Regions from separate parts of the Homo sapiens genome. Here region 2 is linked to region 1. The links come from fine-mapping of genetic effects on gene expression. Tissue or cell type: whole blood. Region 1 holds a variant in brackets; the other region holds the start of a gene. All regions are shown on one strand. Distances are between the middles of the regions.

Region 1 (8,000 bases):
CTGTGTCAAGGTCAGTATCCTGGTTGTGATATTGTCCTGTCGTTTTGCAAAATGTCACTGCTGGGGGAAACTGGGTAATGGGTACATGGAATCGCTCTGTATTATTTCTTATAGCTGCTTGTGAGTTACAGTGATCTTAAATGAAAAATTTAACTAAGAACAAGTAACAAAGGCCCAGGCTTTGGCACAGTCTCTCACACCGCCACCTTCCTGTTTGGCTCACCATGGCTCCCACCAGCTGAGACCAGGGTCTGCTGGGGACATGGCAGCTGGAAGCAGGAGCCCAAGCTGGGGACCCAGGTCCAAGTGACCACCCCCACCATGGCTCTAGATAACTGATTTCCTGGGGAGCCCCCACTGGCTGAGAGTTGAAGTCTTTTTTTCCCCGGGGTGGGGGTTGGGAGTATGGTAAGGCTCTACGCCTTCCTGGGCCTCAGTTTCCCCATCAGGGGACCCCAAAGCCTCCTCTTGGGTTTTAAGTTTCACAAGCTGGCCTCCTGTTGAGCTTGACAGCCAGGAATATACCAGCTGGGTCTTCTGAATTTCCAGCACTGTCTCTCTGTGGGAAGAAACTTTGCACTGAAGTACAGTAAATACAGCTGCAATCCTCAGCTGGGAGTTTTCTTACACTTACGTTTGAGCAAAATCTAGACACAACCCCTGCAGTCAAATCTCTTGACCCATTTTTTTTTTAAATTGTTCCATGATGAAATGCAATATCAGAGTTTAATTAGAATACTATGAAAAATAACTAATGCGTGGAGCCCTTGACTCTTTACTAGGTGCTGTAGTAAGTGCTTCACTCGCACTTGCTCATTTAATCTTCACAGGAACCCTGTGATGTAGGAACTATTATTATTACCTTTTTACATATGAGGAGACAAGCTCAGAGAGGTTAGATGACTCACCCAAGGTTACACAGCAAGAGGCAGAGCCAAGGTAAGAACCTAGGCACTCTGCCACTGCCATCAGCATTCTTAGCCACTTACCATGCTCTGCTGCCTGTCTCGAGAGGAGAAGGTGAAGGTCAGTGCTGGGGCATAGACAGCCAGGAGCTATGCAGGTGGCAGGGGCACTAGTGCTCTCAGAAAAGGCAGGAATGGTCCCTGATGAGGACCATAAGCAGATGGGCCTGACAGATGGTGAAGTGATCTGGTGGGGCCCAGGGGTTACCGCCCTTCACAGCCAGCCAGAGGGGATAGGGGAGCCCTTCTGGGCACAGACAGGCATGTGCCCTCCTGGATGCACCCCTAATCACAGAGAAATACAACCCAGCAGGCTTCATCCCTGTAGATCTGTCCACAGCTGGCTCTTCCTGCCCCTCCTTCCCTGCAATCTCCTCCCTTTTCCTACGGAAGCGTCACCCTTCCACCTGGGCTTTAGAGCCCATCCTGGAATTCCCACCTTCTTCCTCCATTGTTTAGATCTCTCTTAATCCATCCATTTCCAATACAGGGAACTCGGATAGCCTTCTCTGGCATAATAGAGAAAGAGTGCATGACACTCTACCTGAGTGATCTCTGTGAAATTTAGAAACCTGCAGGAACCCTAACAAAAACTGGCAAGTCTTTGCAGAGACGATGTCCTCATTTCCCACCTTTGTCTTGAATGGCCGGAGACATAATTTGTGGTGGAAAGAGCTGGATGAGAGAATCCTCCTGTGATGGCTTCTGTCTCCCATCACAAACAGCTTTTCAGCCCCTTGCTCTTAGCTTAATTAACATTGTCTACTCCGCTTTCAGGCCTCAGCTCAGCCTTCCCAGACCCCCACAGACTCTGCTGCCCCAAAACCCTTCTCCCATGCCTCACTTGGCCTGGTCTGCAATCAGCACATCTCTTCCCACATGTCTGCCCCACGTGAGGGTCAGGGCTCTGTCTGTCCTGTCCTCTGCATGGCCTGCACGGTGGCTGGCACAGGGGAAGCCTTTGGTAAACTCTGGTGCAATGGATGAATAAGCAAACCATTCCCTAATCCAGCCCAAGAAGTAGCACCTTTGGGTACTGAGAGGCCAGCACAGACCTCACGGCAGCTGGCAACCGCTGGCCACCTGCTGGCCAAGACAGTGTCCACAATGGGAATGAGACTTAGGACCCTCGAAAGGGGAGGCCCTTGTCATTTCATTCAGTGAATGGCCTTTCTGCGTGCACACGTGGAAAGCCCCGATAGCTTGCTTTTGGAGCCGCTTGGCATTGCTTTCCTTCAGTGCATTGTGCTGAACCCCAGGCCTATGGAATATCCTAAACGCAAATAAGAATGTACCGTAGCCTGGGCACGGTGGTGCATGCCTGTAATCCCAGCACTTTGGGAGGACAAGGTGGGCAGATCACTTGGGCCCAGGAATTCAGAACCAGCCTGGGCAACATGGTAAAACCCCATCTCTACAAAAAATACAAAAATTAGCCTGGTATAGTGGTGCACACCTGTAGTCCCAGCTACTGCGGGGGCTGAGGTGGGAGGATTGCTTGGGCCCAAAAGGTGGAGGCTGCAGTGAGCTGAGATCACGCCACTGCACTCCAGCCTGGGCAAGAGAGCGAGACCCTGCCTCCAAAAAAAAAAAAAAAAAAGCCACCACCAACAACAATAGCAACAACAAAAAAAACAACGTCAATGTCCTGTGGAAGTTGGCCTGAATTTGGAACATGCTGAAGGCTGGAAACAGCTGTGCTTGGCGTGGCCATGGCGTGCTTCCTCTCCCACACATTCCCTCCCAAGCCTGTAGCACCCTGGCCACTGCTGTCAGCCCCCAGAGGGCTCACGGCATTGGGTCCCTGTCACGCAGAGATAAGTCCCATTTCAGACTCACAGATCTGTACCTGTCTCCCTCTGTGAAGAACCCTGTGGTGCTTCCCATGGGGGCTGCAGGGCAAAGTCCTAACTTCTTGGTATGGCCTGGGACACCTCCATCCCTGCCCTCCCTTAACACTCCCCACTCCCCTTGACCCCAGGGCCCTTGCACAGCATGTCCCCTCAGCCTTCAGACCCCTTCCTTGGCTGCCTGTGGAGTTTCTCCCTCCCTATCAACCCTCGGCTCAGCTGCCCTTCCTGCAGGCAGCCTTCCCCGGTCCCGTGTGTGTCATCCCCAGACCCCTTTCCTCATGTGCTTGTCGTCTGCACTACAGACTGGCCCCGATATCTCCGTTTCCACCATCCCCTTCCACGGCCTTTCTCTTATCTGCCAGCAACCCTGTTCCTTCTCTTCAAAGCCCAGGTTAAGCATTTCCTCCTGTGGACAGGTGCCCAGACACCCTCGCCAACATCCATGCTTCTCTCCCCAGGCTCCTGTATCTTCACCAGCACCTCCTTCAGTGGGCCTCTCTCAGAGCTGTGATAGCAACAGCTCT[C/T]ACCTGCTAGGGTCCACACTGTGCTAGGTGGCTGTGCAGTCATCTGGAGGGATCTGAGGAAGGGCAAGACTGAGTGTGGCTTCCAAGGTCACACTGAGGAGATGGAGCGGGGTCCAGACTCAGGTCCTTTTGGAAGCCTGTGCTCTTCCCACTGAGCCTACCGCCTCTTTCCCCTCTGGGCCACTGCAGTTGATGGGCCTGGCTGGCAGGGACAACAGGGCAACTCATGGGGTGTCACAGCCTCCAGCTCTAGCCTGGCTGGAGTGGGAACCCTGAGAAAGTTTGTTGGTGTGGTGAGCTGCCTGCAGGGTGGCAGAGGGGAGATAGGCCCTGCCTGACTCAGCAGAAAGCTTCCCCGGCTCGATAGACCCAAGCAAGCCCTGCCTACCAGGAGGCCTGAGTCCCCACAGTGACCTTACCCTGCCTTGGGCCAGCCCCAGCTGGCGCCCAGCCTCAGTGGCTGAAATTCCTGAACCAGATCAGGGCCATTTGGAAAGAAGATGTTGCTCCACATTCTCCTCTCCTGGAAGCTGCAGTGCCATTTTGGACAGAAAGAGGATAATCAAGGATCAGCCTACAATTCTGAGTTGCCACTTAATCAAGGGTATGCAAATTAATGAGCATTCTTTCCGCCAAATTACTTTTTAGTATGAAGGTTTGAACTCCTGGACATCCTGGCATCTGTTTGTTTGTTTGTTTTTGAGATGGAGTCTCGCTCTTGTCGCCCAGGCTGGAGTGCAGTGGTGCGATCTTGGCTCACTGCAACCTCTGCCTCCCAGGTTCAAATGATTCTCCTGCCTCAGCCTCCCGAGTAGCTGGGATTACAGGCACACGCCACCATGCCCTGCTAATTTTTGTATTTTTAATAAAGACGGGGTTTCACCATGTTGGCCAGGCTGGTCTCGAACTCCTGACCTCAGGTGATCTGCCCACCTCGGCCTCCCAAATTGCTGGGATTACAGGCATGAGCCACCGCGTCCATCCAGCCCTAGCATCCACTTTTAAGAGCAGTGAGGTAGGAATGGCTCTGCAGGTCGCAGCCCCGGCAAATGGGGAGAGCTGTTTGCATAGCCCCGCCCCACCACTGTCTCCTCCCCCAGGATTCCTTCTGCAGGGCTTCAGAGTCTTCACAACCAGAAGTGATGCAAAAAGTCAACCTCTTTCTGTCCTTTGGAATGGAGGGCCCTGGAATGTGGCTCTGAACACAGAAGTGCTCCTAGGTGACCACCAAGGGAAAGGAAAAAGCAGCCACCACATTCTCTGCCTTCTCACAGGCTCAGGGATTTGAGGAATAATAAGAGAAACAAGAAAGAATTCCCAGGTCTTGCAGGACCACTTTCATAACTGCTGATCACAGAACAGCAAAATCATGCAGTCTCAAGTCTTAAATGGTGACAACTGTGGAAACTGGAGCATGGATTAGATCGAGGACAACAAGGGGGAATGACTGTTACTTTTCCTAAATGTGATAATGGCATGGGGTCCTGTGTGAAAGCCTCTGTTTTGAGTCCTTCCTCTTGGGCAACCCAGGCGGAAGTATTCAGGCGCATTCAGGATCGTGGTGTCTGCAGTTTACTTTCACATGGTTCAGCCAAAACAAGGTATCCACTTCATGACATTGGATTTGGCAACAACTTCTTGGATATGACACCAAAAGCACAGGCAACAAAAGAAAAACAGATAAACTGGACTACATCAGAAAGAAAAAAACCCTTATGCTTCAGAGTACATTATCAGCAGAGGGAAAAGGCAGCCCACAGAATAGGAGAAAATACTTGCGAATTATATTTGTATATGTGGTTAATATCCACATAAGGGGTTAATATCCAGAACATATACAGAACTCCTGCAACTTAACAACAAATAACAAACAACCCAATTAGGAAATGAGCAAAGCAAACGATGGGCCAGACAATCCTAGGCAAAAAGAATAAAGCTGGAGGAATCATGCTACCTAACTTCAAACTACATTCCAAGACTACAGTAACCAAAACAGCATGGCACTGGTACACAAACAGACATATAACCAATGGAACAGAATGGAGATCTCAGAAATAAGACTGCATATCTACAACCATCTGATCTTTAACAAACCTGATGAAAACAAGCAATGGGGGAAGGACTCCCTATTTAATAAACAGTGCTGGGAAAACTGGCTAGCCATATGCAGAAAATTTAAACTGGACCCCTTCCTTACACCATATACAAAAATTAACTCAAGGTGGATTAAAGACTTAAATGTAAAACCCAAAACTATAAAATCCCTAGAAGAAAATCTAGGCAATACCATTCAGGACTTAGGCACGGGCAAAGATTTCATGATGAAAATGTCAACACCAAGTGCAACAAAAACAAAAATTAACAAATGGTATCTAATTAAACTAAAGAGCTTCTGCACAGAAAGGGCTTCTGCACAGCAAAAGAAACTATCATTAGAGTGAACAGACAACCTACAGAATAGGAGAAAATTTTTACAATCTATCCACCTGACAAAGGTCTAATATCCAGAATCTACAAGGAATTTAAACAAATTTGCAAGAAAAAAACAACCCCATCAATAATGGGCAAAGGATATGAATAGACACTTTTCAAAAGAAGACATTTATGTGGCCAAGAAACACATGAAAAAAAGCTCAACATCACCGATCATCAGAGAAATGCAAATCAAAACCACAATGAGATACCATCTCACGCCAGTCAGAATGGTGATCATTAAAAAGTCAAGAAACAACAGTTGCTGGTGAGGCTGTGGAGAAATAGGAACACTTTTACATTGTTGGTGAGAATGTAAATTAGTTCAACCATCGTGGAAGACAACAGAAACCCCATTTGACCCAGCAATCCCTTTGGGTATTACTGGGTATACACCCAAAGGAATATAAATCATTCTATTATAAAGATACATGCACACGTATGTTTATTGTAGCACTACTCACAATAGCAAAGACATGGAATCAACCCAAATACCCATCAATGATAGACTGGATAAAGAAAATGTGGTACATATACATCATGGAATACTATGCAGCCATAAAAAGGAACAAGATCATGTCCTTTGCAGGGACGTGGGTGAAGCTGGAAGCCATTATCCTCAGCAAACTAACGCAGGAACTGAAAACCAAACACCACATGTTCTCACTTATAAATGGGAGCTGAACAATGAGAACATATGGACACAGGGAGGGGAACAATACACACTGGGGCCTGTCAGGAGGAGGGGCACGGGGGGAGGGAGAGCATCAGGATAAATAGCTAATGCATGTGGGGCTTAATACCTAGGTGATGGGTTGCTGGGTGCAGTAAACCACCATGGCACATGTTTACCTATGTAACAAACCTGCACATCCTGCGTATGTATCCTGGAACTTAAAATTAAATTAAACTAAAAAAAAAAGAAAAAGAAAAACAATAGACAAGAAATAGGAAAAAGAAAAGAAATGGGCAAAGGATCTGAACAAACATTTCTCTAAAGAAGACATACAAGGTCCCAGTGCAGTGGCTCACACCTGTAATCCCAGCACTTTGGGAGGCTGAGGCGGGCTGATCACCTGAGGTCAGGAGTTCGAGACTAGCCTGACCACCATGGAGAAACCCCGTCTCTACTAAAAATATGAAATTAGCCTGGTGTGGTGGCACGCGCCTGTAATCCCAGCTACTCAGGAGGCTGAGGCAGGAGAATCGCTTGAATCTGGGAGGTGGAGGTTGTGGTAAGCCAAGATCGCGCCACTGCACTCCAGCCTGGGCGACGAGAGAGAAACTCCATCTCAAAAAAAAAAAAAAAGAAGAAGAAGAAGAAGAAGACAACATACAAATATCCAAAAATCACATGAAAAGACACTCAGCATCACTAACCATTAGGGAAATAGAAATCAAAGCCACACTGAGATGCCACTCCATACCCATTAGGATGGCTACTATCAAAAAACACAACCTAACTAGTGTTGGCGAGGATGTAGGGACACTGGAACCCTTGAGCACTGTTGGTGAGAATGTGAAATGGCACAGCCACCGTGGAAAATGGCAGCATGGTTCCTCCAAAATTACCAGCAGAATATGACCCAGCAATCCCACTTCTGGGTACATACATACCCAAAAGAATGGAAGCAGGGTCTGGAGTAGATATCTGCACCGCCACGGGCACAGCAGCGTTATTCACAACAGCTGAGAGGTGTCTTTGAGAGAGCTTTGCCCAGGCTATGTTCCCACGGAAGCCCAACTGAGCCCACATCTTTCTTTCCTCCACTGCCAAGGCCCTACTATGTGCATGTCCCACGTACCCACAAAGGTACTGAGAAAGAAGCTCAGTTGGGCCTGCTGGACACAGAGAACTCCTCAGTGTGTCCTGTATTTTGCTGGCAGCTGTGGCTTCCCTGACAGTCTCTGCAGTCCCTGGTTTTCTGCTGCCATTAAAGCATCATACTTCCAGGATCTGCCTGTCATGAGCTCACAGCCGTTTCTCCCAGCCTTGGTGGCCGGCAGGAGTGGGACTGGGAGCGGGTCCAGAGCTGGAACATCTACAGAGGGTGGTGCAGGGCGCAAAAGCAACGTAGAGCAATTCACACGCTCCCTCGCCACCACCCCACATGGAGCCATATGCCCAAGAGACTTTCTAGTGCCTGTTGTTTTTTTAGGGCATTGGGAAATTTTTAGCTGCAAAT
Region 2 (8,131 bases), 120 kb after region 1:
ACATGCTTTCTCTTTCTCAGGGTCCAGTCCGAGGAGGCTGGTGTTTATACGACAGAATTTGCTTGCATAAAGCGGGTTAAGCCAGGTTCCCAGTGCAGCGGCTGACACCTGTGGCTTAGTGTTGCTCCGAGCCACCTGCAGAGCCAGTCTTGGAACCCAGCAGGTCCTCTGGGGGCAATATGTCTCTGTAGGTGCTCACGGCAGGCTCCAGGAGCTGGAGGTAACTGGTTGGCCAGAAAATCTACCCAAACCAGTACTGACTAACCGAGGCTGGCACAGATCCTTCTGCATAATAAGATATCCACAGGCCCCCGGGGTGGCTTCTGAGGTCCCTAGGGTCTCTATGAGAAAGATAGCAGAGGCGGGGCTGGAGATGAGGTGCTCTTAACCCAGGTTTTGCCCACAGTTGGTACAGTAGTGGGGGAGGGTTCAGTCTCCTCTTTTTTTGCCCCTTGCTTTTCCTCCCTTCTTTCTTCCTAACTGGGAGGAGACAGGATTGCACAAAGCGAGGCCCTAGTTTTGCTGAAGAGGGGTAAAAAGCCTGGGGGGAAAGATTGAAGCCCTGGTGACTTGAGGTCCCCTCCCTCTTCCTAAAAGCAGAGTGAATGATTCTGTGCAGGCAATAATAATAATACTTATTATAATGATGCTGCGGGGGTCTCCCAGATCATGCAAGAGGGCAGGCAGGCTGAGCAGCTGGTCTCGGTTATGAAGATACAGAGGTGTTTCATGCTGGCTGGCACAAACCTCTGCCCTGAGCCCCCACCCTAGGACCCCCAAGACTGCCCCAAGATCCAGCAAGCACAGGGTTAACATGAGTCATGGCAAGGGGCCTCCAGGACCTCTGCATCATCTCCAGGGGCTGGAGGCAGGGCAGGACAGGTAGGTAGGACCTTGGCCAGCCCCTTCCTCTTTGGTAAACTGAGGATAACACTATGGAAAGTGTTCATACATGCTCATGGTTCTGTTGCTCTTTCTATTTCAGTGCTCCTGCCCTCAATATTTTTTTCCCTTAACCTTTTCTAGACCCATAGGTTTCTTCCAAATTCTGGGGCCGAACTGCCTCAACCATCCACCTCTGTTCTTAAGCCCATCAGCACCCACCACAAGGCGGACGCTGACATCCAAGAGGCAGCTCAGTTTAAATTAAGAAGTTGAGTTATCATCTCTAACTAGAGCAAAAGCAACGGAGCAGAGAGGGCTCCCTGCAATGCAACTTCAGCACAGAGATTGTGAAAACCACCCGCAGGCGAAGGGAGGGCAGGGCAGCCAACTTGACCGTTTCTAACCCACTCACCCACCACCCTCCCCCTGTGCCAGGACTGCAGAACCTCTTTATTTTTGTTGACTTCGAACTAGGACAACCTCACTACTTAACCAACAAAGCCCCCCAAGTCTGAGACTCAGACATTAAAAACTTCTATTTTCAATTATTTGTCTTCTTTCTGTATATTGATCAAATTACCACAAACCACTAATCTGTTAGAAATTAATCCAAGATTGAGCAATTCTACAGCCAGTTAAGTCAGAGTGGAGAATTAATGATTAATTAGCATCATAATGCTCAACAACCCCCCCACTTCCTCTAATGCGTATGCACGTACAGACACATTCTTTAAGAAATGTATTACCAGAACTGGTAGGAACTCTTCTCAGCACGTTACCCACTTGAAAACACTAGAGAGAAACCATAGCCAGTCTGTGTAGCTGCCCTGAAGCTATGACTCTATGCCGGGTTTTAAAAGTCCATATCTCTGTGTTTTTAACGTGCAGCTCCCTGGATCATAGATACCTTGATGAAGACAGAGAAGAAATTTTACACCTGTGTGAGGGTTGGGTGATTACTGGAGCACAAAGAGAGACATAATCCAACCACACAATGATCCCTAGGAGACAAGAGGCCTACAAAACAGGTAAAATGTCCCTGGAACAGGAAATGTTCTTGTCACCAGGCCAATTGGTTACCACAAATAAATTCTTTTTCCAAATAACACAAACAAGCAGGGTTTTCCTGCTTCATCCAAGAGGAGGGAGCAGCAGCAGGAGACCAGCTGTCTTGTGTATAGTCCCAATGTTTGCTTCTAATAGCAAGACAAATCCTTGATGGAAAATGTACAAAGTAATTGAGCTGGCAAGGAATCAGAAGGAAATACCCAGGCCCCTTTCTTCCTGGTGACACATGTATGCCATCTTCAGAAGCTCAGAAACAAGCAGGAAAAGTGAGCAAAGGTGAAGATATATGTATTACTTCGGGTTTCTCATCCATCTAGGGGATTTTCCTTAATTGTCGGGTTTGATTTTAAATGAATGCCTGTACAACCGGAAATCAACTCCAGTACAAAAAATAAAGTCATGTGGAATTTTTGAAAATTGCCATACGGTAGGATCCATATCTGAGTTGTTATAATGAAAAAAGAATTCCTGCTTCTTAAATTTAAAAATTATAAAGTATACATTTTAGCTTTGTTAACATTGCTCAGCCTAACATTAAAACGGCAGGGGAAGTAGGTCATAGAGAAAGCGGCCCCGCCCCAGATGGCACATGATAACGACCAGAGGAGAAGCAGGGGCCATGCTCCCCTGTCACCTGGGGTGACTTTCTGGGGAAGACTTACTTGGGTGTGCCTGTGGGTTTCCAGTACCTGCAGAAGAGGTACTGTCCGTCTGCATTGACCAGGTGAGGGAGGTCCTGGTAGGGAATGCTCTGCGGGGTCCGCCTGGGGGAACTTTCCTCTGGCATGCTGGAAGGGTCTTCAGGTCCTAGAAGGAAAAGTGACATATTCCAAAGTCAGAAATATCTCAAGAACATGTATGGATAGGAGAGAAAAGTCTAGTTCAGAGTCAGTAACATTTTTTTAAAAGCAGTTTAAAAAACCCCTCTGTTTCAAAGGTTTAAAACATACATACATTTCTTGCAAACCTCTCCAAGACTGAAAAATCCCATTTGTTCTTAAGAAAATGCTCACTTTATTTTTTAAGTGCCTCATTACAGTTTTTCCCCCTTCCCATCTGTGTTTATTTTAAATCATTTCAGGAAACTTCATCTTAAAGACTATTTTAGCTGTAATCAAGTGGAAATTATAGTCAGCTCTATGGGTACAAAGACCCAGCTGCAAGAAGACCCATCTATCTTAAAATCTCCAAGGAACAGTTTCAAGTGGGCACAATAATGAGGTGGATGATACTCAGATTATTCCTCCCATCTGAAATTCCAAGGATACATGACAAACCTGTTTCCATTATGTGCTGGCGTTTGCATTCCACAACCACGACAGCCTGGAGAATCAGAACCAGGCAAATCGGGCTGTTCCCTCATCTGGGCGGCCCCAAGGCAGCAGGAAGGCAGCTCCGAGCCCTCTTCCCGCACCCAGACCCTGCCTTTCGGGCTGGGGCGCTCAGCCGGGAGCCTGCTTCCAGCTCCCACCGGCAGGCTCTCCGGGGCTCCCCTCCCTCCCCAGGGCGGGGAGCGGCGCTGCGATTCTCCACTACTAGTTCATGTCATCACTTTTCCTAAACAAATCGCTAGAGGGGCTCGGAGAAGGGAGGGGCCCGGGAAACTGGGAAACTAGCTCCGCGCACACCGAGGCACCTCGCAGACGCACAAATGCGGGTGCCCAAGGCAAAGTCGCCCCCAAGGCTTCTCACAAACTTTGCTTCCTGTGCGTCTCCGACAGCACAGGACACGTAGCCCCGAAGCTGTCATCGGAAATGCCGCTGGGAAAACCGGGTGGGCTTCGCCGGGTGTCTGCACCGGGGAAGGTGGGGACTAGAAAGATGGAGTTGATGGGGACAAGTTGGTTTGGGGGCTGGTGCGAAGGAGCAGGGAGGGCGCGCGCGCGCGCACACGCGCGCACACTCGGACACGCGCGCACACACACCGTGCACACACACACACGCACACATGGGTAGCGGGAGCCCACGCCGGGCGTGTCCGGGACCCCAGTGCTGCTCCCCACCCCTGACGGCGGCACTGGCGGGCTGGGGCAGGGGCCGGGAGGCAGTTACCGGGGCCACGAGCGCCGCTGTCGCGTTCCCCGAGCGCAGCGGATCCTCGTTTGCGGCGGGCCAGGGCCGGGACGAGCTGCGCGCGACCGGCTTCGCGGCGACAGGGTGCGGCGTCTGCGCCGCCACTTTATCCCTGGGCCGGCTCGGCGGCGGGGGCGGCCCGAGGTGGGTGGGGACGCGCGGGACCCGGCGGGCGGCGGGCGGCGCGGGGAGGCGGCGCCCGGGGCCCACGTGTGCCCGGCCCGCGGGGAGGAGCGGGGGCGCCGCCCGCCGACCCAGCCACGCACTCCTCTCCTCCGCGCCTCGTGGACAGCCGCGCCCCGGGGTGGCCGCCCGAGGACTGTCAGGGAGGCCTGAACTGAGCTGGGTTCATGGGAGCCTCAGCGCGGGAGGACACACCACACCCACGGGCACACGCGCGCACACAGACCCACAGGCACCACACGTACACAGACAACTCGCGCAGGGCCGCACACTCACCACACGTGTACACATGTGCACTCCCAAAGTCACTACACTGCACGCAGGGACATACAGACACACATCCCAGAGATACCACATGCATACAGACACACACAGACCACACATGCATGCACACACACAAGCCGAGACATAGGCACAGACAACCCACAGAGACACAGAGGTGCACAGACATATGCAGACTATACACCTGGCCCCCACATAGACACAGACACACTCACATCATACACACACAGTCGCACACAGACACACTCACACTTCATTGCAGTCAGACACATACAATGCTGGAGGGGCAATTAACCGGTCGTGGTGGCATGCGCCTGTAGTCCCAGCTACTCAGGAGAATCGCTTGAACCCGGGAGGCAGAGGTTGCAGTGAGCCGATACCACACCATTGCACTTCAGCCTGGGTGACAGAGTGAGACTCCATCTCGGGGAAAAAAAAATGCTGGAGGGGGTCCACTTGACTCTAGGGTAGTGTAAAAGCAGATGGTGCATGGCTACAAATGCCTTGTCCCTTCCTGGCAATCCCCAGCAACTCTCCCGTTCCCAGCGGCTGTGACCCCCAGATAAAACCTCTGGTGCATCTACACAGGCCAGGGCACAGTCTGAGCTCTGTCCAGTATAACTAGCAACGTGGCCGTGGAGGGTAAGGCCACTGGACTGAGACTCCACACCACCTGGGTTGAACATTAGCTCCTCCGCTTGCTCTTTGAGCCTCAGTCTACCTACCTTCAACCTGTGAGTGATATACCTATGCCCCAGTGGAGTGTCCCTGTCTCACACTGACCTCAAGAGGCCTTCCTGTCTTTCTCCGCAAAAAATTCTACACCATAGCAGCGTTGAGGACTGTGTCTCAGCGTCACACTGTGTGTGTCCAAGGAGGCCCAAGTTGCTACAGAGCCTGTGGTCTAACTTGAGAAATAAAACAACAGCCTTTGAGCAGTGGCTTGAGTTGTAGGCACTGCTGAGCGTGACTTACCCACTGTCTGGCCTCCAGCAGGCCACGAGGCCTGGAGCAGAGGAGTGGCTAAGTGACTTCTGGTCGGGGCAGCTCTACAGAATCCATGCAAGAGAGGTTTAGGGGCGGCAGTCTCAGGGGCAGGAAGCTTGGGGGCTTCACTCAAAGCTGGACATGCTAAGTGCACCGGATTTCCGTTGGTTATAATTCATGGAAAGGAAGGGTGCTCGGGGGTCTGATGGACGCTTTTATCAAGGCATTATTTCAAATGTTCCTGGCTCTAACATTTTATGATTTAAAATACACAGCTTGAAAATTTGGAGGAGAGGCCGGGCTCAGTGGCTCACGCCTGTAATCCCAGTCCTTTGGGAGGCCAGGCAGGTGGATCATCTGAGGTCAGGAGCTGGAGACCAGCCTGACCAACATGGTGAAACCCCATCTCTACTAAAAATACAAAAATTAGCTGGGCATGGTAGCGGGCACCTGTAATCCCAGCTACTCGGGAGGCTGAGGCAGGAGAATCGCTTGAACCCGGGAGACAGAGGTTGCAGTGATTGCACTCCAGCCTGAGCGACAGAGCAAGGCTCTGTCTCAAAAAAAAAAAAAAAAAAAAAAAGCTTTGAGGAGAGACTTCACTGAAGTTGTCAGAGGGATCTCAGTAGAAGTGACATTTGCAAACTTGAAGAGATCCCCCAAACTTGGTTATGGACAGAACTGAGACTGTGGTGTGTGGCCAGCCAACTGGGAATTTGGGAGTTAAGAGACAGATCGTATTGTTCTGTATCTGGCTTTTTCTTTTAATTAAACTTATTCTGAGATAATTGTAGATTCGCATGCAGTTGTAACAAATAATAAAGAGAGATGCTATGTGCCCTTTACTCAGTTTCCTGCAATGGCAACTTCTCACAAACCACAGTAAATATCACAACAGGATACTGACACTGATAGAATATCTGTAGTCAAGCTACAGAACGTCTCTACCCCACAAAGTGGTATGCTTTTATAGCCACATCCACTTCCCTCTCATCCTCACTCCCCTAGAACCCCTGGCAACTGCTAATTTGTTCTCCATTTCTAAAATTTTGTCATTTCAAGGATATTTTATGAATAGAATCATAAAGTACATAACCTCTAGGATTCACCTTTTCATTCAGCATAATTCCAGGTGGGTTGGGTGTAGCAGTCCACAGTATGGAAGTACCACAGTGTGTCTAACAGGTCATCTGCTGAAGGATATCTGCGTTGTTTCCAGTGTTTGTTGATTAAGAATAAAGCTGCTGTAAACCTCCGTGTACATGTTTTTGTGTGAACCTAAGTCTTCATTCTCTGAGATGAGGGCCCAGGAGTGCAATTGCTGAGCTGTAGGGAAATTGCAAGTTTTTAAAGAGAATGCCAAAATGTTTTCCAGAGTGACTGTAGCATTTTACATTCCTACCAGCAGTGTAGGAGAGAACCAGTCTCTCAGCATTCATGTCAGCATGTAGTGTTGTCACCATTTTAAAAATTTTAGTCTTTCTGTTAAGTGTGTAGTGATGATATTTCACTGTGGTTTTTAATTTGCTTTTGCCTAATGGCTAATGTTGTTTCATGTGCGTATTTGCCATCTATATATCCCATTCAGTAAAATGTCTTTTCTTGTCTTTCGGCTATTTTCTTGCCCCCCACCCCCCTTTTTTTTTTTTTTTTTTTGAGACTGAGCCTCACTCTGTAGCCCAAGCTGAAGTGCAGTGGCGCCATCTTGTTTCATTGCAACCTCCACCTCCCAGGCTCAAACAATTCTCATGCCTCAGCCTCCCTAGTAGCTGGGACTACAGGTGCAGGCCACCACACCTGGCTAACTTTTTGTATTTTAGTAGAGACGGGGTTTCATCATGTTGCCCAGGGTGGTCTCAAATTCCTGAGCTCAGGCGATCTGACCGGCCTCAGCCTCCCAAAGTGCTGGAATTACAGGCATGAGCCACCACGCCCATCCTTTAGGCTATTTTCTTTCTTTCTTTTCTTTTCTTTTTTCTTTTTTTTGAGACAGGGTCTCGTTCTGTCACCCAGTCTGGAGTGCGTTGGTACGATCTCCGTTCATTGCAGCCTTTGGCTATTTTTTAATTGTTTGCTTGTTGTTTTCTTACTGTTGAGTTTTGAGAGTTCTTGGTATATTCTAGACATTAGTCTACTAGATACTAGATGTGTGATTGCAAATATTTTCTTCCAGTCTGTAGCTTGTCTTTTAATCCTTTTAACAAGGTCTTTTGCAGAGCAAAAGTTTTCATTTTGATCAGAAACAATTTATCAATTTTTTGTTTTATGGATTATGCATTTGGTGTCAAGTCTAAGAACTCTGTGTAGTCCTACCTCAAGAGATTTTCTCCTGTGTTTTTCTCTAAAAGTTGTATAGATTTACATTTTATGCTTAAGTCTGTAAGCTATTTTGAGTTACTTTTTGTCTGGAGTGTGAGATTTAGATCAAGGTTCATTTGTCTCTACATGTCCCATTGCTCCAGCACAGTTTGTTGAAAAGGCTGCCTTTCCTCCACTGAATTGCTTTTGCACTTTTGTAAAATTCAGCTGCCTGCTTGTACAGGTCTATTTCTGGGTTCTCTCTTTTGTTTCTTTGGTCTGTGTCTATTCCTCCACCAATACCACACAGTCTTGATTATTGAAGTTCTCTATAAATCTTGAAATTGAATAGGCT

The links. PIP is the estimated chance that this variant, and not a neighbour inherited with it, causes the effect.
Region 2: it holds the start of MGLL, and the variant in region 1 is fine-mapped to the expression of MGLL in whole blood (TOPMed, PIP above 0.99).

What each region holds. Positions count from the first base shown.
Region 1 is chr3:127,698,669-127,706,668 of GRCh38, forward strand. All of the region lies in intron 6 of MGLL (monoglyceride lipase), which reads right to left. Among named protein-coding and RNA genes, the nearest start is that of ABTB1, 30 kb to the left of the region's middle. RefSeq lists enhancers at 3,202-3,949, 3,950-4,695, 4,258-4,552, 7,767-8,000. The variant C/T (reference allele first, on the strand shown) is at 3,343.
Region 2 is chr3:127,819,079-127,827,209 of GRCh38, forward strand. MGLL (monoglyceride lipase) reads right to left here and starts at 3,437. Exons shown (of 8, transcript NM_007283.7): 1 at 3,231-3,437; 2 at 2,616-2,760. The coding sequence starts at 3,240. RefSeq lists a silencer at 3,879-4,398.